Regions from separate parts of the Homo sapiens genome. Here region 2 is linked to region 1. Evidence: fine-mapped expression QTL. A gene starts in region 1. The other region holds a variant in brackets. All regions are shown on one strand. Distances are from middle to middle.

Region 1 (15,761 bases):
AAATACTTGCACATTATTGCGATTGTTTTATTTTTTGTACCAAAGACAAATGCAACTGATATGGCAAACTGCCAGTCTAAGTAAAGTTTTGCACAGCTTACATGATACTGTATGAATGTATGAAAAAAAAGGAGAAAAAAAAGAAAAAAAAAGGTCAGGGTTAGGGATCTTACTGAACTGTGAATTTTATTTCTGTTTGGGTCCAATTATCTACAGAAGGAGCATCCATACATACAAATATTATTTTGCTGTTCCTCTAGTTCGCTTCCATAGTAGATAAGTTGGTGGCCATTTAGATGTCTTTTATTTCTGCACTTATTGTAGGAAATTTTAATATATTTCATTTTAGTAAGCTATTGATAAAATAGTTTTTGACTTTGAAAATTAAAATGTTTATTTAGCTTATTGTAGTATACTTCCACCAGACAACAAAATAGATTATTTTTATTGTATTATGTATATATATATATGTAAAGAAAGAAAAAAGCTAAAAATATCTAATTCTTTAGTTGCCACTTTTCCGATTGATGTATTATTGTGCATGTAATATTTTCAAAGATCAACACAGGCTAAAACAAAAACAATTTATAGATTTTTATATTTTTGTACAGGTATTTTCAAACTAGCTTCTTCAAACTTAACATGTGACTTATTCTTCTATAGTTTCTAGAATTGAGAAACATTAACACATTTAGTTTTTAGGTGCTCTTTTTTGCTCATATAAAACAGCTTCATTAGTCAGTGTTTTAACTGTGTTCAAGCTTTACCTCTTGATGAGAAATTTCTTATGTCAAGGCAGCATTATAAACCTTCCCCCACAGATTTTTCCATCCTGTCTCTCTTACTGTTTTATTCTCAAATCTTGTGCTTTGAACTCTGAAAACTGGTGGCTTAAAAACTAAAAAAAGAAAAAAAGCATATTTAGCAAGGAAAAAAATACCAAAAATTTCAGGCATAGCTGCTGGAAAAATTATCTATTTCTCCATTACCCACTGTAGGATTTCTTTTTTAATTATACTTTGACTATAAAGTGTCAAAGTATAATTTGTTCTTTTCTTTTACTTTGTTACCCCATTTGTAAGCTATAGCATATGAAGCTATATATATAGCTTGTGAAGGTTTGATCTAGAACACCCAGTAACAAATGAACAATGTTGCTTACCTGCTTCTTTGACATCTTAAAAAAGAAATCCAAGGAGGATTGTAAGGATTGTCTTACCACCTTAGCTGAACTGTGATGCACAAGATTTTTCTATGTGTTTGGTGGAAATGTACCTGGTTTGTACATTCACGCTAAACAGATGATAAGCTCAAGTCTGATGGTTTAATAGAATGTAAGTTCATCGTTTAAAGCTTTTCCTTTTTAGGTTGGAGAAGGCAAAACACAGGCTTGCAAGTTGGAAGTATATGAAGTCTTGACAGAGTGTGTCTGGTAAATTGAAAAGTGTTTCAAACTATGGCAGTTTTGCAATCAGGTGAAAATCACCTCATGATATTCAGCTGATAAGGTTTATAAAATTGCCCCTTTCTAGCTGCTCTGTTAGGAATTCTGGTTTTTGATACTTTTTTCCTGTCTGCAAACCAGAATTTGATTTTTTGGTCTTGCATTTCAAAAAAAAAAAGACTTTGAATCTGTTTAGTAGATTCCATATCTTTGAGTTTCAGTGTTTTATATGTACTACTTAAGTTAAATAGTTAAAAGCTTTTAAATAGTTGAGCTTTTTAATGTTGACACTTTATTTTGTACCTATTTATATATGTATGTATATCTTAGAAAAGCACTTTGTTAAAAAAAAATTGCATTTTATATGATTCCTGCCATTTGCTGCTAAATCTGGGCTGGTCAGAATGCTGCAGCGATACTTGATCTATATAAAAACCTGGCAGTAAAATGTAGAGTGAAAGTTAAATCCTCTTGCTGTTTTAACTTTATCATAAAGATGACATAGGCAAGCTGTGCAGCTTTACATTTTAACCAGGGGACTCTGTGGCATTTAAAACCGTCTAGAAATGGTTGTACTTTAATGCCAGTAATAATCTGCTTCCTCTATTGTCATTAAAATATATACGTTTAGTGTATCACACAAACCAATCTTATAAGGGTAATGTAAAAACCCCAACAATTGTACATGTTCTGTTTTTGAAAATTGTGGCATGTATTTTTGGGTGAAGATCATTAGAGAAGAGTTCTCTAAAGGTTTTCTGTGTTCATACATGGTATACAGATAGCTCATAATGAAGTCCAGAATCTTACTTTTAAGTGAAGGCATTGTGAATTCACCTCAAGTAAACCCATTGTTCCAAAGCAATTATAAACTTTGACTCTAGTACTACTATGATTTAAAAAAAAAAAAAACCAACAAAAACCTTTTTTCCTAGTTTCAGATACACTGGATTCTTTATAGAGTTTGTCTCCATATGAAAGCATGCTGTCCAGTCGCTCTTGTTAAGATCTTGTCTGAGTTTTGAATTGGGTGCCACACTTTTCCAGTCAATATAATTGCTTGTTCTACTGTACCATGTATGATTCTTGTCCTTTCCTATATCCTTCATGACAGATTATGATGTGGCTTTATATTGTGCCTTACTTGTACATTTAAAACTAAACGTCTTCATTCCCTTCCACTTCCTACATCTTTAACTTTGACCTTTTTGGTAAGAGAATCAGAACTATTACAAAAGCATCATGAAGGATTTCAGATGGGTATGGTTTCAAATTCCCTCTCTTTATAGTTATTTTATATTTGTATGAAAGACCAGTTTTGGATGGTCTTTGAATATAGGGGGGAAAGATTAGCAGTAATTTCACTACATCCCTTTTCTCTGACTTTCATGCATTTCTCATACATCTTCTTTCTGATGCTTGACTTTATTTGCTTCCTAGCAATAGTCTGCATTTAAAGAAAGGTGTGTTCAATTCATCAGCTTGAAATTGACTATTTCATTTTTCCAGGATTTTTTAGGAGAAGAGTACCCATTTTGTTTTATAAAAACAGATGACAAGTCTCTTTAAAAGAAACAGAAGTACAGTACTTTTGAAATACAATGCTGTTAGTTTGGATTTCTTTTTATATATATATATAATATTCATACAATGATCTGATGTTTGCCTTCATTAATAAAGCTGTTAGTTTATTCACCAAAATGTCAAGAATGGATGTGCTTTTCTTTATTCCACACATTTAAAAAAATTTAGCTGCTAAGATTTAATGTTATAAGAAATGAATTCAAGTTGCCTTCAGCAAGAATTAACAAAAACTTATGTTCCCTTTCTTTATATAGTTTCCTAAAATTCTGTTCAAGTATTTTCTAGTTAATTATGTAACAGAATGTTAGCATCTCTCCATATCTTGAAACTTGAATTTTGAGAATGCATTGAATTATGCTTTCAGTGTTAAAGTAAAAGGTTTCAATTATCCTTCTAGTGAAGTCTGTTGTGGAATACCATTTCCCATGGAACTGAGGCCATTTCCACAACTTTGCACAGAACTGCAGTCTTGTTCTTCCCTTGGATCATGACAAATAAGTCTCACACAGTGCCGTAATACTTGTGGATTCTTTTGTAATCTTTGTAATCTTAATAAGGGCATTATGAGAAGACGACTCCATGTTTTTTTAATACTTCAAACACATTGGGATGTAACAATGAATGTCAACTGTAGGAATGGTGGTTTCGTTTTAAGGAATAAGCATGTTGGGGAAAGATGATGAAAATGTACTACTGAAAGTTATACACTTCCATAGGCAAATGGGATTATGTGTTGAAGCATAGTCCTCATGCTTAATAAACTGACTGAAATCGTAGAAATTACACCTAGGAACTGAGCTAGGCCAAATTGCCATTTTTGTTTAGAGAGTTTTGGAGGTAGTAGTGAGGGGACAGAGCCTTAAAACTACTTCCAAACAGTATTTTGGAATTGAAGACTTGGTAACTAGTGAAGAACATCAAAGTTGGGTATTTCAATGTGCCAAGTTTGGGTGAACTAGGTTCGGTTTGCCTCTTTCATAACAATGTAAACACAATGGTGTAGTTAATTAAATTCTGGGTGGATAGGAGCAGGACTGATTACTATGTCTTGCCCTTCGCCCTTTGTTTTTTTCAGAACCAAATAACAGAAATGTGTATGTGTGTACTGTATCTGCCTTTCCACCACATTTTTATGACACTGTATTCCACTGCCTGCTTTTTTACCTTCTTTCCCTAGGATTTGTCCTACAGCTTAGTATTGTGGTTGACAGCGATACTAGGGCTGACAGCACAGAAGTCACAAGAGAAGAGTGGAAGGGCAAGAATTCAAAGCATTTGTTCATACAATGTGGCAACCTCTTTTGCATAGTTGCGTAGGATCCTGTTTGTAATGCTATCATAAATATTCTGTAGTTTTTTTTTTTTCTCTCCCAACTGGAGCTATGACACTTTTTATTGGATTCAGTCTTGTCTCTTGTCTAGAAAGAACTTTATCTTGTTGACGCATGAGCTGTTTAAAAATTATCCTATTAAATGTTGGTTAATAGTTGTGCAGTTTTTCATTTCAGATGGAAAGGCAATGCAAATTTTGCCTTTGTTTTCTGTCACCTTCCAACCCCTGAGCACTTCTAGTCAGATACAGATTCATCAGTGTATGCAACATCCTTTGTAATTTAAAATAAAAAAAGATGAAAAGAAAACGTTCTGAATTGTTTGCCTCATGTTTTCGCCCTTCCTTTCTGTACTTATATCTTGCTTACCTAGGTAACCATCCGCTCCTCAAGATAACCTATTCCAAAGAAATTCCAAATCACAGAGAGTGGTGAACTGCTGGTCTGCTGCCCCTCTCGTGGTAATAATCAAAGAGCTAACATTTTTTTGACACTATAGGTTGATTTTTCAATATTTTAGTGACATTTAGCTATTATATAGAATTATTTGTTGATGTAAGCATTTGCATTCTTCACAGCTTAGAGGATATTCTTATTTCTCCTCTTTTAATCTTTGGGCAAGTGTTCTGCATGGGAAATAAAATATTTTGGGTCTCTCCTGATTTAAACATTTGTATGTGTTTGTGTGTTTAATCACTCTAAGTAAGTCTCCAAACTAAGCTGGGCGTATATATAGAGGCTTAAATCCAGAGACCTAAGTGAAGGCTTCCATCAGAGTATGTGGCTGAAAGTCAGCCAGCAAATATTTGTTGAGCACTTACTCTGCCAGGACCTGTGCTAGGTACTGGACAATAGAGAGATGAAAGAGAACTCCAGGAACTCAGAGCCAGCATGTGAACAGGATTGCAGAACAACACAGGAGCTGTTACAGATATGCAAAGGGCTCTAGGCACATTATTGTTGCTGAGGTGTTTTCATGGACACATCCAGTGGTGTATTAGAGAATTGATAGACTTGGGTTCTTAGTATCCTGGACCCTTGAAGAAACCCTCTTTGTTTCATGTGAGTGACATTAAGGCCATCAGGAAGCAAAGGGGAGGGGCATGGCCTCCCATGGACTGGTTCTGCATCAGGACTTGATCTCTAAAGACCACTGCTCACAGGATCCTCTGTCAAGATCTTGAGACTGTTAAAGGGCTGGGTGAGCCAGACCAGTATAGTCCTTAGGAAACTAAACCTGTGGATAGCATCCAGTTAGCTGGGTCATTCAGCTGGTGAGCTGTTTAGCCACAGTACAGTGGAGAATTTGAAAGAAAGAAAATGGCTGGGAAATGCTATAATATCCCAGCTAAAAGGTTCAGAGCAGGAAGAAGGTGTTAGAAAGCCCTAGGGGAGGGAGTGGCATTCCTTAAGACTCTGCTAGGTGCTTTTTTGTTACAGGAAACTCAGCTGCTACTCTCAAGCGCCCAATGAGGCTGGTGGTCATGTTCATTTTACAGGAGACAAGACTCAGATGAGGAGACTAGCCCCAGACCTACCTTATATGATTATAGAGCTCCAATTCAACTCCAGTCGGCTTGCTGCACTACAGAAATAATTTGTATTCATCTCTTTGGGATCAGGTCAAGTCACAGGCAATATTTGGAAGGATGTCTCTGTAGCGGGGGATAAAGGCCTTAGAATCTAAAAACCAAAAAGAAAGCCAAAACCTAGCAGATAAACAAAAGCTAGTCTAAGGATCAGTGGGTAAAGGTGATAGGGGAAGCAAAACAGAGTTGAGAGGAATCAGTGATTGCGTGTAATGATCACCAGACTGCACATCTGTTCCTCGAAGATGGCCTCTAGCTTAAGGTTTAGGATTGGGTCCCCTTATTGGAAGGAAGTATATTGGAGGGTAGAGAAAAAGGGAGCTTATGTTTTCTTCTTTAGCTGCAGCATAAGAGATGCAACTGGGGACTGTTGATTGCATATGAATATTCAACAAGAAGCATGATGTGAACGGGGTCCCAAGGGCACGTCTGCAGGTCTGCCAGCTGCTGGCTTTGGGGCTTCTCTGCTGTCCTAAACAGGGGGCTTCTATGTGAGTATCCAAAACACTGGAGTGACCTGAAGAAAGTAAACCTCAGTTTCTTTAAAAGGTTTTAACCTGAAAATATTACCAGGAATAAACTTAACAGAAAATGTATACAAGGCCTAGGATAAAGAAAACTTTGAAAGTACTGTGAAGGACACAGAAGGAAACTGGAATAAATTGAAAGATACACCAAGTTCTTACACAGGAGCAGTGACATAGAACTAACAGTGGTAAGTTAAATTAAAAATATAATATTGCTAAAAAATGTCATCCTAAGAAAACATACCAAGAGGGTTTAAAAAAAAAGTTTACACAGGGATAAAATAGCTGGAAGATGCTGGTAGGCAGTGGGGCTGAGGGGGCAGTGATGCAGGGGACAAGGGGAAGAGTTATTTAATCCTAGCAGATACTAAAAGTCGTTATAAAACCATAATAGTTAAAACTAATTTTGATACATGAATAGGCCAGTCAAGCAGAATAGAAGGTCTAAAAGTAGACTCAAACATATACGACAATTTAGTATGGCAAATGTGGCATCCAGAACCAGTGAGCAAAAGGTAGACTCTTCATTAAATAGTATTGGAATAACTAAGTAACCTCCGGAAAAAGTAAAATTGGGTCTATATCTCACACCATAAGCCAACATATATTTCAAAATAGATAATGATCTAAGTGTAAAAAAAAAAAAAAGCTACAAAAAACCACCCATAAAAACACTACAAGGAAATGTGGGCAATCCCTTTAAATCCCTGTAATTTGGACCACGAATCCAGGAATCATAAACGAAGATTGATAAATTCAATGTAAAACAAGATTAACAAAAACCATAAGCTAAATCAAAGTTCTATAGACTTTTTAAGGCTGTAGATGTCTTTAAAAAAAAATGAAAATAGAAAAGCTTTGAAACTCATCTCTAAGGACTAATCCTCCTAATATATAGAGTTCCTGGAAACGGATATGAAAAAAACCAACAACCCAATAGAACAATGAGCAGACAATAGAATAAATGCAAATAGCTCTGAAGCATAGGTAGAGTTTCTCAGCCTCCTTCATGATCAGAAAAGCATAAACTAAAGAAGGCATTTCTACCTAATCAGATTGGCAAAACTTCCAATGTTTGTTAACCTATCCTGTTGACAAGGCCACGGGAAACAGGCATTTATGCCATGTTGCTGGAGGGAGTATGGATTGACATAATCCCTATGAAGAGCAATTTGGTAATATGTCAGAATTTTTAAATGCATATATCCTTTGACCTAGCAACTCCATTTGCTCTGGGCAAGTCATTATTCCTCTCTGCCCCGTTTTTACCTCACAGAGTTGTTGTAAGAGTTAAGCGAGACACACATGAAGCGCTTAGTACAAAGTTCCTGGCACATAGGAAGTGCTCCCAAAATGTGGGCTAGTAGTAGAATAACAGCAGCTAACGGGCATTGAGATCTTACTATATGCCACATTAGCACACTGTGCTTGGTGCTTTTCATGTATTTTCTCATTTAATTCTCCAACCTGTGAAGTAGGCGCAATTGATTATCACCAGTTAGCTTCCGAGGAGACAGAGGCACAGGCATGCGAAGTGTGTGGTGGACAGGATTTGAGCCCAGGCAGATGCCAAGCCTGTGATACACTGCCTCTCTATTAGGTGCAGTGGGGTGATGAATACCTTACGAGAGGGTGTGTAGAGGGCTGTAGGGACACAGACAAGCACATAGCCCCGCTTACAACAGGTGGGGACCATATTGATTTTTTGGGGAAAAGATGGCTTTCAGTAGAGGCTGTGCCACTTTCTTTCTTTCTTTTTTCTTTTTTTTTTTTTTTTTTTGAGATGGAGTCTTGCTCTGTCGCCCAGGCTGGAGTAGTACAGTGGGGCGATCTCGGCTCACTGCAAGCTCCACCTCCTGGGTTCACATCATTCTCCTGCCTCAGCCTCCCAAGTAGCGGGGACTACAGGCGTCCGCCACCACGCCCGGCTAATTTTTATATTTTTAGTAGAGACGGGGTTTCACCGTGTTAGCCAGGATGATCTCGATCTCTTGACCTCGTGATCCACCCGCCTCGGCCTCCCAAAGTGCTGGGATTACAGGCATGAGCCACCGTGCCCGGCCTAGGCTTTGCCACTTTCAAGATAGGTAATCTTGCAACAGGGTTGATTGTTTTTTGTTTTAATTTACTCTAAGCCCTACTCCTGATCTGTGATAATAGTGTAGTACAATTTCAAGGGTGGTTGTGAGGATTAAGAGAGATGAACATGGTCGGGCACAGTGGCTCACGCCTGTAATCCCAGCACTTTGGGAGGCCGAGGCGGGTGGATCACGAGGTCAGTTCGAGACCAACCTGACCAATATGGTGAACCCCGTGTCTATGAAAAATACAAAAATTAGCTGGGCATGGTGGCACGCACCTGTAATCCCAGCTACTCAGGAGGCTGAGGCAGGAGAATTGCTTGAACCTGGGAGGTAGAGTTTGCAGTGAGCCAAGATTGTGCCATTGCACTCCAGCCTGGGCAACAGAGCGAGACTCCGCCACAAAAAAAAAAAAAAAAAAAGAGAGAGAGATGAACATTCAAGTCCTAAGCCTTTAGGTCCTCACAATCTATGCTTGCTGAAGTGACCCGAACAAATGCAGATGGAGTGGGGTCGAGTGGGGGAAACGCTTTCTAGGGAGAGGGAACACCACATTCTAAGGCTACACATCCAGAAGGAGCTTGAGCAATCCAGGAAGGGCGCAGGGTGCGGTGGCTGATGGCCGGGGTGGCTGATGGCCTTGAGGACCAGCTAAGAAACTTGGATTATTTACTAACAAAAATAAAAGAGCCACCATTTGTTGAGGGTTTGCTCTGACATTTCCATCAAAACTACCTTAGCAAGGTAGATTTAATAAATCCAGTTGTATACAAAAGGGAAACACGAGAAGCCATAGAAGGGCTGCATACAGGTAGGTGACTTGATCAATTTCGTGTTTTACAAAGATCCCTTAGATCATGTGTTGGAGTGATAGGAGGTACTCTACCGACCTGCCTTGAACTCCATACTTTAAAAAATATATGACGTTTATCATTTCCTCTTTTACTCCACAATTTATACTCACTGTAGAAAATATTAAAAATATAAGAAAGTTTGAAGAAACAAAAAATTATTACTGGTACTTTCCAGAGACATCTCAATTGATACTTTTCTTCCAGTCTTTTTTTTTCTATGTAAAAAATATATAGTTATTAGAATGCCTGACAGAAGGAAGATGGAAAGAGACCACTGTGAAGCGTTCTTGATATTCCCTCTTCCCTTCCTCTCCATGTTATTAGGGCCATACCAAGAGGAGAGGCTGATTTCCCTACACGTGTCAGGGAAAGTCCCAACTCTGCGCAGTGACCCTCGCTTGCCATTTTCGCCGGTCTCTAGGGGGCGCTGCCCCGAGACTGGGTGGGGAGGGAAAGAAGGTGGTGCGAAAACGCGTTTGAACTTGGGTCCTGCCGCTGCCCGTAGCCGGCGTCCCCAACATGGCGGCTCCCCAAGACGTCCACGTCCGGATCTGTAACCAAGAGATTGTCAAATTTGACCTGGAGGTGAAGGCGCTTATTCAGGTACTGATCCCGGGACCCCTGCCGGGCTCCAGCAGCCCTAACCCAAGCTCTGCTGGTCTGTGAGCTTGGCAGTGTCACTCCCGAACTTTCCCCACTTGGTTTCCCAGACCACAGGCTCCGCCCCATGGTCGGCTACCCCCCCGGTCCCCATTTGGTTGTGTCCCGGTGACTGCTGGCCTTGATCCTTTTTCCGGGTGCCGCCGGATCTCCCATCCCCAGAGCACCCCACTGTTCTCCGCCCCTGACTCAGCTACTGCTTCGGGGCTCGGCTTTGCCCCTTCCACCTGCAGCCCTGGTCGTCGCCCCGCCCCTGACTACCTCACAACCTACCTGTCACCCTGCTTGGCCCCGCCCTCTGACGCTGCTTCAGCATCCTCTGGTAGCGTCCGGGAGGCAGCTAGCCCCGCCCCCTGCTGGCCAGCTCTCCTGGCATCCAAGGCCACCTGGCACGGGAGGCACCGGGTGAAACGAATGTAACCTGGACCGTAGTTGTGATTTTATGCTTGAGGAAATCGAGTACGGCGCCAAGGCCTAGGTTAGAAGGCATACCTGGGTCAGTGGCAAAACTGGGACCTGGACTGTGAAAGTCAACCTAGGAATAACACCTTAGAGTGTTACCCCGTTTGAACAGATAGGAAATGAAGTGTTTCGCCTTAAGCCATTTAAGGGTAGAGGTAAAATAAACGAGTGGACTTAGGCAAGAATTGGGAGTGTAGACACGGTTCCATGAGTTCAGCAAAAAGAAACCGAGTTTTAAACCTTGTTTTTGCTTGTTTGTTTTTGTTTTTTTGAGACGGAGTCTCGCTCTGTCGCCCAGGCTGGAGTGCAGTGGCGCGATCTCGACTCGCGGCAAGCTCCGCCTCCCGGGTTCCCGCCATTCTCCTGCCTCAGCCTCCTGAGTAGCTGGGACTACAGGCACCCGCCACCACGCCCGGCTAATTTTTGTGTTTTGCTTAGTAGAGACGGGGTTTCACCGTGTTAGCCAGGATGGTCTCGATCTCCTGACCTCGTGATCCGCCCGCCTCGGCCTCCCAAATTGCTGGGATTACAGGCGTGAGCCACCGCGCCCGGCCTAAACCTTGGTTTTTAAAAATAATCATTTTCAACAAAGTCACTAAACATTAGATGTAGACTCAGAGTTTGTAACAAGGTGTGGCAAAAAGTGCAGGAAAATAGGGCTCCCCAGATAAACCAGATGCAGAATAAACCAAATTAGATGCAGAATAAACAAATACGGTGCAAAGAAGTGTGATTAAATGAATAAGCCAGAGAAAAAGTGAAATTTGATGCAGATATTTAAAACTTCTTGAACTTCACTTCTCTGATGTATACATTACAAAACTTCTGGGCCAATTATAGAAAAATAAACAGGTTTCATACAAATGAAATTACATTTTCACATAATCTAAATTGCTTAGGCATTCTTCTGTACTCTTTCTAACATTTGGGTTCTTGTCATTGCTGATGAGAAAGACTGATTATAGCTGGATGTATTGCGTTCTTACCGTTTTCCAGCAGCTCTGCTAAGTGCTTTACATACATACATAATCTATGATGTTCTATGAGGTAAGTAGTGTTGTGATAAGGAAACTCAGACACAGAGAATTTAAATAACTTTCCAGGTAACTTTACACAGCTCATAAGTTGCTACAGCCAGGATTCGAATCCACCTGGTCTGTCTCCAGAGCCTGCCGTGAAAGCTGGCACCAGTAATTCTGAATGTCCAGCAACAGATTCTAAATCTGCCCTTAAACATGTCTATATAAACACTCTAACTTATCACTAATGGTTTGTAAAATCACACTGGAGAAGTTAATCTCATCATATGATGCCAGATATTTAAACATCCTGATCTTCCAAGTTGGAAGGATCTAAGGTTCTAAAGTGATAGTATCACTTTTGCATGTCCATTCTTGTTGGGCATACAAGCTGTTTTAAGCTGTTTCCTACTGGCCAGGTAATGTTTTGTTAAAATTTAGGCACTAAAAATTAGGTCAAAGCAGTTGTGTTTCTTTCTAGGCTTTTATATTAATTCAACATTAATCTAAAAAGGAATGAGAAAAATGTAAATGATAATGTTTTTGCTTGTGTTGCAGAGGTAAACAGCAAAGATCAGGATGAATTATAGTTAGTATGTTAATATTAGTTGGTCTAAACCAACTCTATCACTGTATGGATGGTGTCATTTCATTTCATTGCCTTGAGAAAGGCCTTTCATCTGTTCAATGTCTCCTAGGATATCCGTGATTGTTCAGGACCCTTAAGTGCTCTTACTGAACTGAATACTAAAGTAAAAGAGAAATTTCAACAGTTGCGTCACAGAATACAGGTGGGTATTCTCAATTCAGTCAATGAAGGGGGCTCTGTCCTGGGTATATCCTCTGCTTGAGAGCCGTCTGGGTTCTTCAAACACCAGCTGATGGGAGCAGTAAACACTTAGACAGGGAGGGTGACTCTGTACTAACCTGCTCTCCAGGTAAAAACGAGAAACTTTTGGCCGGGCACGGTGGCTCACGCCTGTAATCCCAGCACTTTGGGAGGCCGAGGCGGGGAGATCACGAGGTCAGGAGATCGAGATCATCCTGGCTAACACGGTGAAGCCCGTCTCTACTAAAAATACAAAAAATTAGTCGGGCATGGTGGCAGGTGCCTGTAGTCCCAGCTACTCAGGAGGCTGAGGCAGGAGAATGGCGTGAACCCAGGAGGCGGAGCTTGCAGTGAGCCGAGATCGAGCCACTGCACTCCAGCCTGGGCGACAGAGCGAGACTCTGTCTCAAAAAAAAAAACAAGAAACTTTTGCATGCAGAACACTGCCAGCTGTGTGAACGAGTGAATGGCAGGAACACCATTATCCTTGGAATTTTTGAAATCCTGGGGCCACTTCAAATACTTTCTCTTCTCTGCCATTCTTTCTACCCTATTCATTCATTCACTACCTCAATCCATCACACTCCTGGGTTTTTTTTTATGCTGTTACTTTGCTCAGCATCTTCCTTATTTCAATAGTCACCAGTCACATCATATACACATTTAGTATGCCTGAATTCAAGTATGGTATATGTGCTGTCTCAAAAAACACTAGAGGGTGACAAGTAGCAGTTATGTTTGTTTGTTTTATTTATTTCACATTTTATTCTTATTACATTGGGCTGGGCAAAGAGTTGTGCACCACTGTATAGATCATGTTATTCTGTTGCTTTCATTTTTAAAAATGAAAATGAGGCCAGTAGTTTGAGAACAGCCTGGCCAACATGGCAAAACCCTGTCTCTGATAAATGCAAAAATTAGCTGGGCATGGTGGCACACACCTGTAATCTCAGCTACTTAGGAGGCTGAGGCAGGAGAATCGCTTGAACCCAGGAGGTGCAGGTTGCAGTGAGCAGAGATCGTGCCACTGCACTCTAGCCTTGGTGACAGAGCAAGACTCTGTGTCAAAAAAAAAAAAAAAAAAAAAATATATATATATATATATATATATATATATATATATATATATATATATATATATTTTAATAGAGATGGATTTTTTGCTCTATGTTGCTTGAGCTGGTCTTAAACTCCTGGGCTCAAGCAATCCTCCTGCCTCAGCCTCTGAAAGTGCTGGGGTTACAGGCATGAGCCCAGACTATTGTGTTGCTTTCAGACAGAATTGGGATTCAGCTTCTAATTGTTTCCAAGTTCAGAATCTAGATCAGAATCAGAGGATGAAGACCACTTGTGGGTCTGGGGGCTGCTGAGAGGAAACACGTATGGAGCTGACTATGGAGGGGTCATGTTTCAAGGCTGCCATCTGGGCATCCAAGGATCCTGCATGCAGCTCATGGGTAGAGGGGCCCACAGCAGCCCCTCAAAGTGAATAGGGATGGCACAGGCCCAGGGCTGGAACTCAGGAGTTGGAAGGATGACTGCATCTGCACACTTAAAAAGATGCTGTCCATCTGTATCCTGGAATCCTGTGTAGGCCCTCTCCCTGAGGACAGGAACAGGGTTGGCTCCTTGGCCTCTGTTTAGCCTCATGAGTAGTTCAGTAAAAGTCCTGCAAACTTGTCATTATCTGGAGACATTCCTGCCGGCTCCTCTTCATGCCCCTCTACTTGAAGCACTAGGCAGTTGCTTTATATTGTTCATGATTCTTCTTCAGTTATTCAAATTTGAGATAATTGCATTCTTTTAGGGAACTCTGGATCTCCTGGTCACTCCAAGGGTTGATTACTGTTCTGATGGTTTTTCTGGTTTCTTGGTTTCTTCTTCCTTCTTTATTTCCTGAGGGTTTCTAGTAATTTCAGTCTGATGTCTTACGTTCTCCATTTTTATTCCTGAGTTTTCTCCTGGAATTCTTCTCACTGCAGCCACAGGACCTAATGTTGGGTTGGCAGAGAACTAGCACTTACTCTGCCCTAGTGGGACCTAGGAGAGTCAGGAGGTACCTGAGTGTGGAAACATGCCTGCTCCTCTAGACTTCTGGAGGTCTCTTAGAAGTAGCAGTTTGAATAGTGGAGATGTTTCCCCTGCTGTACCTTCAGTGAGGGTGAGGTGGGTGTCATGGATCTGCCCATCTGTATTAGTCTGTTTTCATGCAGCTGATAAAGACATACGTGAGACTGGGAAGAAAAAGAAGTTTAATGGACTTCTGACATGGCTGGGGAGGCCTCACAATCATGGCAGAAGGCAAAGAGGAGCAAGTCACGTCTTATATGGATGGCAGCAGGCAAAGAGAGAGCTTGTGCAGGGAAACTCCTGTTTTTAAAACCATCAGATCTCATGAGACTCATTCACTATCATGAGAAAAGTGCAGGAAAGACCCACCTCTGTAATTCAATCATCTCCCACCAGGTACCTCCCATGACATATTGTGAGAGTTACAATTCAAGATGAGATTTGGGTGGGGACACAGCCAAACCATATCACCATCCCTGGATGGGTCTTGTGGCACCTGGTCTTGTGGTATTGGGGTTTTGTATTAGGCCTTTCTTGCATTGCTGTAAAGAAATACCTGAGGCTGGGTAATTTATTTAAAAAAATGGGTTTAATTGGCTTAAGGTTCTGCAGGCTGTATGGGAAGCATAGCAGTATCTGCTTCTGGGGAGGCTTCAGGAAGCTTCCAGTCATGGCAGAAGGCAAAGGGAGCAGGCATGTCACATGACAAAAGCAGGAGCAAGAGAGAGATTGAGTGAGAGCTCACTTACCACTAAGGGGATGACTTATGCCATTCATTAGGGATCCACCCCCATGATCCAAACACCTCCCACCAGGCCCCACCTCCAACACTGGGGATTACCATTCAACATGAGATTTGGGCAGGGACAAATATTCAGACTATATCAGGTCTAAAGACTTGAGCTTTTTTGGCCAGCACAGTGGCTCACGCCTGTAATCCCAGCACTTTGGGAGGCCAAGGCGAGTGGATCGCCTGAGGCCAGGAGTTCAAGACCAGCCTAGTCAACATGGTCAACCTCCATCTCTACTAAAAGTATAAAAATTAGCTGGGTATGGTGACCCGTGCCTGTAATCCCAGCTGTTTGGGTGGCTGAGGCATGAGAATTGCTTGAACCTGGGAGTTGGAGGTTGCATTGAGCCAAGATTGTGCCACTGCACTCCAGCCTGGGTGACGGAGCAAGACCCTGTCTCAAAAAAAAAAAAAAAAAAGACTTGTGCTTTTCATATAACATGGCCCCCAAAGCCCACCAGCAACTCTGTTGTTGCTTAACAGAGGAAGACAGTCTGTTCTAAAGCTGGTAGAAAAGCTGG
Region 2 (15,761 bases), 100 kb before region 1:
GTGTTTGTGGCCACTACACTCCAGGGCAGGTGAGAGAGCGAGACTGTCTGAAAAAAATATTATTTATTGATTAGAGACAGGGTCAGGCTCTGTCACCTAGGCTGGGGTGCAGAATGGCATGATCATAGCTCACTGTAACCTCAAACTCCTGAGCTCTAGTGATCCTCCCACCTCAGCTTCTGGAGTAGCTGGGACTACTGGTGTGTGTCATCGTGCTGTAGAGAGTCTCGCTATGTTGCCCAGGCTGGCCTCAGGTGATCTTCCCGCCTTGGCGTCCCAAAGTGCTGGGATTACAGGTGTGAGCCACCACGCCTGGCCTAAATTTATAATCTGCCTGGTACTGATACTTGTACAAAGAGGCTGTTCTGCTGGCCTAAGGAAGAGAACAGAAAATTATCCCTAGATTAAGTGAAAGATATTATGAGGCTTTCACACTACTACAAGAAACAAGTAGCTCTGGTAATTACCACTCCTTGGCCTGATGTTGTTTTCCTAGTACATTGTAAATATAGTCTGTTTAGGGCATGATGGCTCATGCCTGTAATCCCAGCACTTTGGGAGGCGAGGATGGGCACAACGCTTGAGCCCAGGAGTTAGAGCCCAACCTGGGCAGCATGGTGAAACCCTGTCTCTACAAAAAAATATAAAAATTAGCCGAATGTGTTGGCGTGCACCTGTAGTTCCAGCTACTTGGGAGGCTGAGATGGGAGGATCATTTGGGCTCAGGAGATTGAGACTGCAGTGAGCCGAGATCACGCCACTGCACTCCAGCCTGGATGGCAGAGCAAGACCCTGTGTCCGAAAAAAACAAAAATAAAACAAAACAAAAAAAAAGATGGTGTTGAATTTAAGCTGCTAGAAAAAGAAAAGTGTCATTTGTCACCTACACTCGAGATAGCCAGAACGGGGAGCAAGCTACAGGGCAGCCTCCAGTACAAGACCAATGCAAGGAGCCCGCTCCCCAGGAGCCTGGCCCCAGAGCAGAGTTCGCCATGCCTGCGGAACCTCCCCTCCATGCTATAAGAGGGAAGGGAAAAATACAGACTCTTGAAACTGCGGTGAATTCATTAGATTCCAGCACAATCAATCTCAGTCAGCTTCATTCTTCCTGCTTTCTGTAACATAGAGTGTTACTTGTGCTCCTCATTTCAGCAGTGTCCTTGGTTACTGGACCTTTTGCCACAGCCCTGCAAAACCTGGCCAAACTTGCACCAAGTTGATTATCCTGTGTTTCATATTTTGTTGAGCATCTGTGCATTTTAAAGTGTTGGCTTGGTTAACTTTCTCGATGTTAACTTTTTGCCTTCCTGAGGAATGTATGAGGACCAGTTACCAGAATGGTTTTGTTTTGCAGGTCACGAGAAGAGAATGCCTTCTAGATGCAAAATCACCTCCAAACCAGACCACTTTTCTTGACTTGCCTGTTTTGGCCATTAGCTGCCTTAAACGTTAACAGCACATTTGAATGCCTTATTCTACAATGCAGCGTGTTTTCCTTTGCCTTTTTTGCACTTTGGTGAATTACGTGCCTCCATAACCTGAACTGTGCCGACTCCACAAAACGATTATGTACTCTTCTGAGATAGAAGATGCTGTTCTTCTGAGAGATACGTTACTCTCTCCTTGGAATCTGTGGATTTGAAGATGGCTCCTGCCTTCTCACGTGGGAATCAGTGAAGTGTTTAGAAACTGCTGCAAGACAAACAAGACTCCAGTGGGGTGGTCAGTAGGAGAGCACGTTCAGAGGGAAGAGCCATCTCAACAGAATCGCACCAAACTATACTTTCAGGATGAATTTCTTCTTTCTGCCATCTTTTGGAATAAATATTTTCCTCCTTTCTATGGAAATCTGGGCTCGGTGTTTGTAAAGTTCATTTTTATAAGCTTTTCTATCGCTACATAATGCCTTTTTAAAAAATGATTTTGTAGTCTAAACTTAGGTTGAGTATATAAACCCTGCCATGTAGCTTGAGATGCCTGAAAAGACTGGTAAGTGCGTTTCTTAATCGTTCAGTAACTATTTGAGTGCCTACTGCAGCCAAGGCACTGGAGGGATCAAAGATGTGTAAATTTGGAGTCCCTGCAAGTTCACAAGCTATTTGGAGAGATAAGGTTAGTATACATAGAACTGTAATATAAGGTTGTGTTGGAGCATTGTCCTTAAAGATGGTACCATGGTGAGCAGTTCAAGGTTACCTGCCAGCTGCAGAACAAGGCAGCAAATGCTCCTGAGATGGAACCATCACAGCCTCAGACATAGGACTAAAGAAGTCAAGAGTGATTAAAAAGCCAGGGGCAGGAGACAGTAATTTTGTATTTCAGTAGCAGGCATCTCGATACACTAATTTGAGAGCTTTATTACTTTTAAGAAATTAAAAATTAAAATGAACCTAAATTTTCACCAGCTCATGGCTTTTTGACAGCCAGCCAAGAATGGATTTCCTGTTTTGCAGTTTCTACTTTCTATTCCTCCCAAACTGTCTGAACTCATTACTTTGCTATTCTTATGACCAAAGTGAGTTTCAAGTTGAAGTGACTCTCCTGCTCTCGTTTCTTTTCATTCTTTACTTTTGTTTTGCGCAGTCTGTTAGGCAACTCCATGCTTTACGTTTCCAGCAGGAGGGCCACATTAGCTAATTTCATGGAATACATGAAACATTGATGATTTGAAGTTGAAGGGGGCTATGGTGATATAGGCTAACCCCATCATTTTATGGATAAGGAAGCTGAGCCCAGACAGGGAGAATTTCTCGCCCAGCTTAATGCAGTTGGTCAGAGCTAGACAGGGGAGTAAGATCCATGTTTTCTTTCTTTTTTTCTTGAGACAGAGTCTCACTCTGTCGCCCAGGCTGGAGTGCAGTGGTGCGATCTCAGCTCACTGCAACCTCTGCCTCCCGGGTTCAAGCAATTCTCCTGCCTCAGCCTCCTGAGTAGCTGAGATTACAGGCACCTGCCACCGCGCCCGACTAATTTTTGTATTTTTAGTAGAGACAGGGTTTCACCATGTTGGTCAGGCTGGTCTCCTGACCTCGTGATCCGCCCACCTTGGTCTCCGAAAGTGCTGGGATTACAGGTGTGAGCCACCGCGCCCTGCCATCATACTATTGTTGAAATGTGGGAATGACGAAATCAGCTCAGGTTTTATGAGAGGAAACTCGGTAAATTCCCTTTGCTCAGGAAGTCACTTCACCCTTGAGCCCTAGTTGTTTCATTTATTAAATTCTTGAGAAGGTTCAGTGCCATTAATACCTAAACCCAGGCACATGTTCTCTCGTCACCTCACCCTTAATAGCAGAACTGTTTGTTAACAACATGATTAGGCATCGGAGATGGATGTTGGTGAATCATATTTTCCTGACCGTTGCCACACTCCATCCAGTGTTTGTCAGGGCCCAGACTGGAAGGACCTCCATTTAGCCCGTTCAGAGGATACCGAAAATGTTCCTGCGCTCCAGAGCCCTTCCAGGCGAACGTCATGTGGCCTCCTGGGACAATCACTAGATTAGCAGAGGTCCTAGGTTTGCCATCTTACTCCCATCACTCGCTAGCTGTGTAACGGGGCAAATCATTTAATTTCTGACTCTCAGTGTTTTCATCTGTAAAATAGGGATAATGCATACCTTTTCTACTATACGAAGTTGTTACCAAATGAGATTTTGGCGGGGAAGGTGATTTGTGAATTATAATAATACATCAAGAGTATTTTCCAAATAAATGACCAAATCCCCAGGGTACACTGACAGTACTTTTCTATTCAGATAGGACCCAGAGGGACAGCCAAGTGATTTTTTTTTTCTACGTAGGGTTACACTTTGGGTTCTTTGTGTTTTGTTTTGTTTGAGACAGAGTTTCGCTCTTGTTGCCCAGGCTGGAGTGCAATGGCACGATCTCAGCTCACTGCAGCCTCCACCTCCCAGGTTCAAGCAGTTCTGCCTCAGCCTCCCAAGTAGCTGGGATTACAGTAGGCTGCCTCCACGCCTGGCTAATTTTTTGTATTTTTGGTAGAGACGGGGTTTCACCATGTTGGTCAGGGTGGTCTTGAACTCCTGACCTCAGGTGATCCGCCCACCCTCGACCTCCCAAAGTGCTGGGATTACAGGCGTGAGCCACTGTGCCTGGCCTATGGTTACACTTTTGATTAGTCATTTGTACTTGGAGGTAGAGGTTTACAGAAAAATAAAAGGCACCCTTATTAGGCCCCCAGGCCTGAGTTCAGAGCCAGAGCCTAAGTGGCTGGACCACACCCTTCCTGCCCTTCCAGGTTCTACCAACTCTTATACCAGGATAGAAGTATTTCTGGCATGATTTTGAAGATGAAGTGTGAGGATTGATTGGTTTCTTTTAGCACTGTTTTTGTTGTTTTCTTTAAACATATAATGATGTCTAGACGTGTGTCACTACCCCAACTTAATAATATTTTATCTTTCCTTTGATGTTGCTTCAAAAGTAGCACCTTCTTGTTTAGCCTTTTTTTTTTTTTTTAAGCAACGGTAGGTGTTTGGTCATGCTGAAGTAAATTTAGAATTTGAGAAATGATTTAAAATTGTTGCCAAGAATCATGAAAAATTTGGCAAGAGTCAATTGCTCCTTTATTAACATAAATTATGTTTAAAAATATATGTCTACACATTTTAGAACAGTTTCATACTCCATCCTCTATGCAAAAATTCTTTTTGGTTTGGGAGAATATATGTGTTTAAAATGGAGAGGGAGGCCAGGCGCGATGGCTCACACCTATAATCCCAGCACTTTGGGAGGCCAAGGCAGGCAGATCACCTGAGGTTGGGAGTTCAAGACCAGCCTGGCCAACATGGTGAAACCCCATCTCTACTAAAAATACAAAAATTGGCCGGGCACGGTGGCTCATGCCTGTAATCCCAGCACTTTGGGAGGCCAAGGAGGGCAGATCATCTGAGGTCAGGAGTTTGAGACCAGCCTGAGCAACATGGAGAAACCCCGTCTCTACTAAAAATACAAAATTAGCCGGGCGTGGTGGCACATGCCTGTAGACCCAGCTACTCAGGAGGCTGAGGCAGGAGAATCGCTTGAACCCAGGAGGCAGAGGTTGCAGTGAGCCGAAATGGTGTCATTGCACTCCAGCCTGAGCAACAAGAGTGAAACTCTGTCTCAAAAAAAAAAAAAAAAAAAGCCCACTATGGTGGCGGGTGCCCGTAATCCCAGCTACTAGGGAGGCTGAGGCAGGAGAATCACTCAAACCTGGAAGGCGGAGGCTGCAGTGAGCCAAGACTGCACCGCTGCACTCCAGTCTGGGCAACACAGTGAGACTCCATCTCACAAACAACAACAACAAAATGGAGATGGAGACTAAAGCAAATGTTATGTGTTACTTTTCCCCTGGCCCTTTTATTTCAACTTTCTCTCAAGAGTTGAGTGGATGAAATCAATTGCAGAAAATTCATAATTTTCAAAGGAAAGCGCAACATAAAACATTGTAAATAATACCTATCTCAGTACAGTTGACTAGAAATAACCTAATGCCGACGTAAGGAGCTGTTTAAATCATGTTGCTGCATCCAAATGAAGTAAAATCAATTTTGTTTTCAAAATACATGCCTAGAAAAGAGACAGAAAAGAGAACAAAATTACTAGCGTTGCTTGCCTCTAGATGGTAATTACAAGTCATCTTATTTTTCTTTTTCCTTTTCAGCATTTTTTCCAATGAAAATGTAATAGTGTAGTAAAAAGAAACAATGGAAGTTAATTTAATAGCAAAAGATAATGGCCAGAATATTATGTTACAAGAAAAAAAATAAAACAGGATTTTAAACAGCTATACATAGAAAAAAGCCTGGTAGGAAACAGACCAAGATGTCAAAAGTGATTATTTCTTTTACAATATTGTGTCTTCCAACTTTTCCATAAACAGCATGTATTACTTTTATAATCAGAAAAAAAAAAAGATATTTTTGAGGGCATCATTGTCAGAAGTGTTAGTACTTCCTTCAAATATAATTTAGTGCACACACACACTTTTTAAAAAAGTTATTCAGGGTCAGGGGAAATGCAGTCAGCTAGATTTATTAAAACATTGAAGCTATTATGAATCAATGAAAATCAGTGAGCTCACACAGAAATTGTGATTGTTTTCATTGTGCAGGACAGAGCACTGATCATTCCGTGTATAAAACTCTAACCTCCTTTTGTATAGGTGCTCACAGTGACAGCATGGGGAAATGAAAAGGGAGCATTGATTTTGATTCTTCCCACATAGAAAAGTGGAAGCCTAGGGTATTAATGCTCTGGGGTCCCACACCGCTTAGAAAAAGCCCCACTGTTCTTCTATGCCCAGCTGCTCCAAGCAAAGCTTTCTTTCAGGCTGTCCCTGCTTCAGTTAGACTCCCATCTCAATGAAATGTATTGGCCCTCTTTTCCCAAATCCCGCTGCCCCCAAGCCAGCTCCAAAAGAAGGGGATATTCCAGTAGCTGAGGATGCTCAGCAGCTAATACTGCCGCCCCCATGAATCCAATCAAGATTCCATTTCAGTTTCTGTCAGGATGTTGACATGGTTTCCATGGTTTCTTTACACCGTCCACAGTGTGGTACTACTGTGGGTTGCCACTCCAAAACAGAACAAGCAGAGTAGATATTTTGTCAAAGTAAGCCTGTATTTGAGGAAGGGTGAGTTAAGAAGCTAAGTGTGACTTTGTCCAAGCTGCAGATGCTTTTCAACAACAGGTTGAAAAAGTAGTTCAGCCAGATTCAACCAGGTTGCACAGGTATTTTCAGCTCCTGTTTTTTGTCCTGATGTTAGCTGCTTGAGCAAAAAGACTCAGCAACCTGACCTCCTGCAGCCTAGAGTTTAGCAGGGAAGAGAATTAAACAGTAATAATGAATGGTTATTTATGCTACACCAGTGCTTCTCAAATGGTAACGTCCAGATTGCCTGGGGATTGTGTTTTAACAGATTCTGATTAAATCAAGATGGGAGCAATGATTCTGTATTTCCAACAAGCTCCCAGGTGCTGCTGGTGCTTCTGGTGGGTGGACCCCATGGAAGCAAGGTGCTGTGTCTTAGGGAAGTACCGGTTGCTAGGTAAGAATAAGCACTAGAAACATTAAACTGGTGGTGGGAGGAAAGGTTATTGTAGGAAATGACCTTTAAGGGTAAACCCCAAGGATGAGTAAGAGCTTAGCAGAGAGGATCGGGCACAGTGGCTCACACCTGTAATCCCAGCACTTTTGGAAGGCCGAGACGGGAGGATCACCTGAGGTCAGGAGTTTGAGACCAGCTTGGCCAATATGGCCAAACCCCGTCTCTACTAAAAATGCAAAAATTAGCCAGCCATGGTGGTATGCACCCGTAATCCCAGCTACTCGGGAGGCTGAGGTAGGAGAATCGCTTGTATCTGGGAGACAGAGGTTGTAGTGAGCCGAGATCATGCCATTGCACTCTAGCCTGGAGGACAGAGTGAGACTCCATCTCAAAAAAATTTTTAAAAAATTAAAAAAGAGTTTAGCAGAGAGGAGTGTCTGCGGTATTTCCAGTAGACCTGTGAAATTGTTGCAGGAGTCCAGGAGAGATAAGTGTCCTGGAGTGTGGTAATGGAAATGAATTAGGAGAAGGAGCTACAATGGGGCCATAATTATTAGTTAATACACATAAACTTCCGTTGAGTGATTAGTTATGTGGGGGCAGTAAGGGACAGGGAGGAGCTGAGAATTACACCAGGTTCTGACTGAGTGATGGAGCCCTTTACTAGGATGGAGGCACAGGGGATACAACAAACTTGTTATAGCCTGATGGGTTCTTCTTGCCTGCTGCCCAGAAATGCCAATGCACTGAGAACAGC[C/T]GAAGTGTTGCAGCAGAGAAATAATTTTTTTTTTTTTTTTGAGATGGAGACTCGCTCTGTCGCCCAGGCTGGAGTGCAGTGGTGCAAGCTCCGCTCACTGCAAGCTCTGCCTCCTGGGTTCATGCCATTCTCCCGCCTCAGCCTCCTGAGTAGCTGGAACTACAGGCGCCTGCCACCACGCCTGACTTTTTTGTATTTTTAGTAGAGACGGGGTTTCACCCCATTAGCCAGGATGGTCTCGATCTCCTGACCTTGTGATCTGCCTGCCTCGGCCTCCCAAAGTGCTGGGATTACAGGCGTGAGCCACAGCACCCGGCCGAAAAAGAATTTAATAATCAAAATGCCAGCCAAGCAGAAGGACTGGAAATCATTCTCAAATCTGCCTCCCCGAGAATTCAGAGGCTAGAGTTATTTTATTTTATTTATTTTAATTTTATTTTTGAGACAGATTCTCACTCTGTCACCAGGCTGGAGTGCATGGTGCGATCTCAGCTCACTGCAACCGCTGCTTCCTGGGTTCAAGCGATTCTCCTGCCTCAGCCTCCCGCGTAGCTGAGACTACAGGTGCGCACCACCACACACAGCTAATTTTTGTACTTTTAGTAGAGACAGGGTTTCACCATGTTGGCCAGGATGGTCTTGATCTCTTGACCTCGCGATCCGCCCACCTTGGCCTCCCAAAGTGCTGGGATTACAGGTGTCAGCCACTGCGCCCTGCTGAGGCTAGAGTTTTTTTGTTTTGTTTTGTTTTGTTTTTGAGACGGAGTCTTGCTCTGTCACCCAGGCTGGAGTGCAGTGGTGCGATCTCAGCTCACTGCTCCCGGGTTCACACCATTGTCCTGCCTCAGCCTCCCAAGTAGCTGGGACTACAGGCGCCCGCCACCACTCCCAGCTAATTTTTTTGTATTTTTAGTAGAGATGGGGTTTCACCGTGTTAGCCAGGATAGTCTCGATCTCCTGACCTCGTGATCCACCCACCTCAGCCTCCCAAAGTGCTGGGATTACAGGCGTGAGCCACCGTGCTTGGCCCTCTGAGGCTACAGTTTTTAAAGGAAAGCTGGGTGGGCAGGTGGCTAGGGAATGGGTAGTGCTGACTGAGTAGGGGATGAAATTATAAAGGGTTGAAGTTGTCTTCTTGCACTAAGTCAGTTCCTGGGTCGGGGGTCACAAGACCAGTTGGGTCAGTTTCTGGGTTATGGGTTGCCCATCCTAGTGGCGCCAGCTGGTCCATCAAAATACAAGGTCTGAAAGATACCTCAAACACCAGCCGTAGGTTCTACGATAGTGACGTTATCTATAGGAACAATTGAGGGGGTTACAAATCTTGTGACCTCCAGCTACATGACTCCTGGACCATAATTCTGACCTTGTGGTTAATCTGTTAGTTTTATGAAGGCAGTTTAGTCCCTGTGTGATGAAGAGGTTCGTTATCTTTGTTTAAAGTTAAACTATAAACTAAATTCCTCCCATAGTTTTCTTGCCCTATACACAGGAATGAGCAAAGATGGTCAGCTGGTGAGGTTAGAAGCAAGATGGAGTCAGCAATGCTGGATTTCTGTCACGATCATAATCTTTGCAAAGATGGTTTCAAGCTTAGGGACACAGTGGAGTCCAGCTGTGGACAAAGAGTTGCAGGGACCTGAGGTGTCCATGCAGGGACACCCCCAGTGGGCAATTGTTATTTGGGCCTGGAGGTTAAGAAGGACCAGGCTGGAGGTTAGAATGTGGGCACCAATGCAGAGATAATGGAAGCTGTGGGTGTGGATAAGGGCCAGGAAGAATGTGTGTAGAGTGAGAGGAGAGGCTGTCTAAGCTGCAGGCCTGAGGGGCACCCACTCTTAAGGGTGGACAAGGGAAGAGGAGGACTCTGTAAGGGGCAGCCATTGTAAATGGCCCTGGTTTGGATAGCTGTCGGCACCACCCTCACCCCCAGCTTATTAAGTATTTTACATTACATTATCCTAGGAAGTAAGTGGGACACATATTGTACCTCTTTTATAGCTGGATAAACAGATCAACAGTACATCAAACCTACTCTCATTCCAACAGCTTGGCTGCCCTTCAGCTGGTATGTTTACAGGGACTCCAACCAGCCCTCACTCACCTGACAGCCAAGCTGCCCATTTCTGAGATTCTAGGAGCCGCTTACAGCTGTTTTTTTTTTTCCTACTTTTTCATCATTATTATCAGTCCTGTGGCTAACAATAATACCTAACACATAGCAGTTCCACATACGGATGTTAACTTTTTTTTTTTTTTTGAGACAGAGTCTCGCTCTGTTGCCCAGGCTGGAGTGCAGTGGCACGAGCTTGGCTCACTGCAACCTCCGACTCCTGGGTTCAAGCAATTCTCCTGTCTCAGCCTCCCGAGTAGCTGGGATTACGATGTGCGTCACCACGCCTGGCTAATTTTTTGTATTTTTAGTAGAGATGGAGTTTCACCATGCTGGTCAAGCTGGTCTCGAACTCCTAACCTCAGGTGATCCACATGCGTCAGCCTCCCCAAAGTGCTGGGATTACAGGTGTGAGCCACCGTGCCTGGCCTTTTTTTTTTTTTTTTTTTTGAGATGTAGTTCTGCTCTTGTCACCCAGGCTGGAGTGCAATGGTGTGATCGCGGCTCACTGCAACTTCCACCTCTGGGGTTCAAGTGATTCTCCTGCCTCAGCCTCCCAGGTAGTTGAGATTACAGGCATGCACCACCATGCCCAGCTAATTTTTGTATTTTTAGTAGAGATGGGGTTTCACCATGTTGGTCAAGCTGGTCTCGAACTCCTGACCTCAAGTGATCCACCCGCCTTGGCCTCCCAAAGTGCTAGGATTACAGGCGTGAGCCACCACACCCAGACCACAGATATTATTCTTAATGTTTCACATATTTTAACTCATTTAATCCTCACAAAAACCTATTAAATACATTTATTATCTTCATTTTATAGATGAAGAAATTGAGGCCCAATGTTCCAAGCTGTTGTCAAAAAACCAAATTATAACAAACTAGTTTAAAGATTTCAATTGGCTTTATTTGCAATTCTAGAATCAGGCAACACTTCATTCCATAAAACAGTAAGTCCCAAAGAGCTGAGCAGAAGAGCTTGGCTTTATACACACAGAGAGGGGCTGGAGAAAGCAGAAGGAAGGAACAGAGCATATTAGTTACTTTTAGACAGAACAATAGGAATGTCACTGGTTAGTAACATTGGTTTACTTCAGGATACCTTTTTGGTTTAAGGATTAAGGCAGCCGGGCGCGGTGGCTCACGCCTGTAATCCCAGCACTTTGGGAGGCCGAGGCGGGTGGATCACGAGGTCAGGAGATCGAGACCATCCTGGTTAACACGATGAAACCCCGTCTCTACTAAAAATATAAAAAAATTAGCCGGGTGTGATGGTGGGCGCCTGTAGTCCCAGCTACTCAGGAGGCTGAGGCAGAAGAATGGCGTGAACCCGGGAGGTGGAGCTTGCAGTGAGCAGAGATCGCGCCACGGCACTCCAGCCTGGGTGACAGAGCGAGACTCTGTCTCAAAAAAAAAAAAAGGATTAAGGCAGAGGAACTTCCCTTATCATACTGATTGAAGATTGGAACTGGTCTTCTTGGGAAATTGGTTGTTGTCTGTCTCTCTTGATTTCTTGCAAGGTCAGAAAACTCTTCAGGTTTGGTGATCTGGAACTTTAACATGGCTGACTCCATTTTTATTTTTTATTTTTATTTTTTGAGATGGAGTTTCGCTCTTGTTGCCCAGGCTGGAGTGCAATGGCGCAATCTCGGCTCACTGCAACCTCCGCCTCCCAGTTTCAAGCAATTCTCCTGCCTCGGCCTCCTGAGTAGCTGAGATTACAGGCATGCACCACCACGCCCGGCTAATTTTGTATTTTGAGTAGAGACGGGGTTTCGCCATGTTGGGGCTGGTCTCGAACTCCTGACCTCAGGTGATCCGCCTGCCTCAGCCTCCCAAAGTGCTGGGATTACAGGCGTCAGCCACCGTGCCCGGCCCTCCATTTTGATTTTTAGCCTGGTCTGTCGGGGCCTAATGCAGGAGCTTATTCCAAAACAATGGCCTCCTATAATGGTTTATTTAACAGTGTTAATTAGAGGAAATGGGGTTTAAACCCAGGGGAGTCCGACTTTAGGGTTCAGGGCTGTCACTGAGGCTCCATTTTTCTGAGGTAAAATTCCTCACTTTACCCATCGATGACGGTCTTGTAGCCTTAGTTTCTTGGCCACACCTTCAACCTTTCAGTGCCTATGGTTGTTCCTAGCCCCAAAAGGTCACATGGTTCTTCTAATACCTTCCATTAAGAAGCCAATAGCTTTCTGAAAATGAGGCCAGAGGCCATTTGGAGAATCCTAAACCTACTACCTGGGAACGGGCAGGGTCTTGTGGTTCTGAATGTCCTCAGAATGAATTTCCTGCCATCCCTGGGATTCCAGCTCCCCTCTCTCCACAGCTCCCCACAAGACAGGGTTGGAATTGCTAATCCCCTGCCTTTGGGGCAGACTATCAGACCCAAAGGTAGTTCTTTGTGTTTTTTTTTTTTCCGGTGACACTTCAATGCCCTCATGCAATAAAGGGGCCTTCCTTGATTTTCCTGAGTTGCCCAAGGGGGCCGGCACCTGCAAGTCCCAGGGAGGGTGAGCACTTCATGCTCTCTGCCAGCGTTTCTGAAGCATGGGGTCGGAATGGGATTTTCCAGTGTTACATTGCATGTGGATAGACGGTGCAGGTCCCTGAGAAAGCATCGCCTCATCTCACCTGCCTCTGCCTGGAAAGTTTCACCCCTCTCAGCTCAGCTCCAGGGGCATGTCCTGGAGGCAGTGCCCCGCCTCCTTCCCTCCAGAGGTGTGCGCTGTTTGCTTCCCACAGCAACCTTTGCTTATCTCCGTTATCACAGTTGTACATAACTCTGTCTTTCCCAGGGGCTGCAGAAGCTTTACTGGGCAGGATCCCTTGTTTGTTCGAGTTTGATCCCTACCATCTTGCACAAAAAGCTGTTCAGTAAATGTTCATTCACTGCAAGTTGGCTTGGAAAAAAAAGTCTTGTGAGAGATCACCTTTTTTTTTTTTTTTAATTCCAGTCTCTAGGTATTGAGTTTTCTTAAAGGATGGTAAAACTGTCTGACCTGGACCTCTAACATCTTAGAGGGTGAATTTCATGGGGCAGTCACACAGGGCCCCTTGCTTAGAAGGCCCCTGCACTGGGTTTGATGCTCTGCTCTTGTATTGAAATTCTTAGCAATTTTTTTTTGTGGTGGTGGGGGCGGGGGGATGGAGTTTGGCTCTTGTTGCCCAGGCTGGAGTGCAACGGTGCAATCTCAGCTCACCGCAACCTCCGCCTCCTGGGTTCAAGTGATTCTCCTGCCTCAGCCTCCCAAGTAGCTGGGATTACAGGCATGCGCCACCATGCCTGGCTAATTTTGTATTTTTTTTTTTTTTTTGAGATGGCATCTCACTCTGTCACCCAGGCTGGAGTGCAGTGGCGTGGTCTCGGCTCACTGCCAGCTCCACCTCTCGGGTTCACGCCATTCTCCTGCCTCAGCCTCCCGAGTAGCTGGGACTACAGGCGCCCGCCACCATGCCTGGCTAAAATTTTGTATTTTTAGTAGAGACGGGGTTTCACCGTGTTAGCCAGGATGGTCTCGATCTCCTGACCTTGTGATCCGCCCACCTCGGCCTCCCAAAGTGCTGGGATTACAGGCGTGAGCCACTGTGCCTGGCCTAATTTTGTATTTTTAATAGAGATGGGGTTTCTCCATGTTGGTCAGGCTGGTCTCGAACTACTGACCTCAGGTGATCTGCCTGCCTTGTCCCCACAAAGTGCTGGGATTACATGCCTGAGCCACAGCGCCCAGCCTTGAAATTCTTAGTAATTTTTGAACAAGGTCCCTGCATTTTCATTTTGCACTTAGCCCCACAAATTATGCAGCTAGTACTGCATATTATAAGGAGACTCTCTAGTCAATCAGCAGGTCCTAATTGGGATCCACACCTATCTGTAAACCCCCTGAAAGCACCTGCACAATTAGGGGTGTGTATATTCGTGTGTGTTTTCCTGGAGAGCAAGTCTATGACTTTCGTCAGACCCGAAGCCAAGTTCAGAGCCGTGGTTATTAACAATAACAACGTCACCCAGGCTGGAGTGCAATGGCATGATCTTGTCTCAGTGCAACCTCCGCCTGCCTGGTTCAAGCAATTATCCTGCCTCAGCCTCCTGAGTAGCTGGGACTGCAGGTGCGTGCCACCGTGCCACCATGCCCAGCTAATTTTTTGTATTTTTAGTAGAGACAGGGTTTCACCATGCTGGTCAGGCTGGTCTCGAACTCCTGACCTCATGATCTACCTGCCTCGGCCTCCCAAAGCGCTGGGATTACAGGCATGAGCCACTGTGCCCGGCCCAACAATAGCCATCTTTTACCTAGTGCTTATTGTGTGCCAGCGCCTAAGGACATTATGTAACTGTGATAAGGACAGGAGGCAGGGAAATACTGGGTAGAAGAGAGCGGTTCTCTGGCAAAGGCCCACCCACAACCCCGGGCCTGGGGCCCTAAATGAGAACTTCACATCCCTGTTTTCCCATCTAAATGTTGCTTTTTCCAAAACCACCCTGGCCTGCCAGACCCCCCATCCTGTACCCATAAGAACCCCAAACTCCACTGGCAGAAAAGCAGAACAGTGCGGCAGAGGAGAGAAGAGAAGAAGCATCTGAACGTCAAAGAGGCAGCTGGTCAGCTGCTTAGTCTGCAGCCAAACTCCTTCCCACTCTATCCACTTTCCTCCTCCCCATCCCGCTGAGAGCCACCTTCATCTCTCAATAAAACCTCCACATTCACCATCCTTCAAGTCTGTGTGACCTGATTCTTCCTGGATGCTGGACAAGAACCCAGGTGCCAAGAGGGCAGGGTGTAAAAGGCTGTCACCCTGACTCTCCACTGAGCTGGTTAACACTTAACTGTCCACGGACGGCAAGGGCTAAAAGAGCATTAATTGTAACACACCCCTAGAGGCTACCATGGGGCCTGAGTCCAAAAGCGCTCGCCCTGGCCCCAGCACCCGCTCACCTGTGTGCTCTCCCTCCAGCAAGGGGTTTGAGTAAGCAAGCCACGCCCCTGTCACAAGTCCCCCGAAGGGGTTCAGGGAACTCTCCCATCTCAACTGTTATAGGTTCACTACCTGATGCACACAGCAAGTCAATAAATACATCGTGACACCAGGTTGCAGCAGACAAACAGGTTTAATCATAGGGTCATGAAACAAGGAGAGGACCCTTGTTTAAATCCATTTCCCTGAGGAGTTTGGGGCTAGGGTTTTTAAGGGTTTTGGAGTGGGCCAAAGTGTGGAGATGGCTGATGGGTTGAAGAGTGCAGACTGAAGTCATGGGACAGAGAGCTGAAGAAGCTGGGTTGTCATGCTGATCCCGTTCCTCTGTGGGGGTCTTCAAACTGGGAGCTGGAGTTGGGGTCTGGAAAACATCTTAAGTGAGCCTTAAACAAAAGTCTTATGATTCTAATGTCAGAGATCCTGTCTATAGGAACAATGGGGATGGAAATCAATTTTTTTTTTTTTTTAAAGACAGAGTTGCCCAGGCTGGAGTGCAGTGGCACGATCTTAGCTCGCTGCAAACTCTGCCTCCTGGATTCAAGTGATTCTCCTGCCTCAGCCTCCGGAGTAGCTGGGATTACAGGCACCTGCCTCCAAGCCCAGTTAATTTTTGAATTTTTAGTAGATACCGGGTTTCACCATATTGGCCAGGCTGATCTCATACTCCTGACCTCATGATCTGCCCATCTCAGCCTCCCAAAGTGTGATTACAGGTATGAGCCACCACGGCCGGCTGGAAATCAATTCTTAAGCGGTCTTATGGCCCTGATGTCAGAAGTCCTACCTGTAGCAACAACAGGGATGCAAATGGTCAGTGTCTAGTGCTCCATGACTTTTTTTTTTTTTTTGAGATGGA

Evidence for each region. PIP is the estimated chance that this variant, and not a neighbour inherited with it, causes the effect.
Region 2: its variant is the best candidate, but not a certain one, in a credible set for the expression of BNIP1 in lung (TOPMed, PIP 0.74).

What each region holds. Positions count from the first base shown.
Region 1 is chr5:173,134,617-173,150,377 of GRCh38, forward strand. BNIP1 (BCL2 interacting protein 1) reads left to right here and starts at 9,915. Exons shown (of 6, transcript NM_001205.3): 1 at 9,915-10,013; 2 at 12,250-12,342. The coding sequence starts at 9,930. CREBRF (CREB3 regulatory factor) reads left to right here. Exons shown (of 9, transcript NM_153607.3): 9 at 1-4,668. RefSeq lists enhancers at 10,108-10,636, 10,578-10,647.
Region 2 is chr5:173,033,045-173,048,805 of GRCh38, forward strand. ATP6V0E1 (ATPase H+ transporting V0 subunit e1) reads left to right here. Exons shown (of 4, transcript NM_003945.4): 4 at 1,355-2,401. Among named protein-coding and RNA genes, the nearest start is that of CREBRF, 15 kb to the right of the region's middle. RefSeq lists a silencer at 3,963-4,032. The variant C/T (reference allele first, on the strand shown) is at 7,813.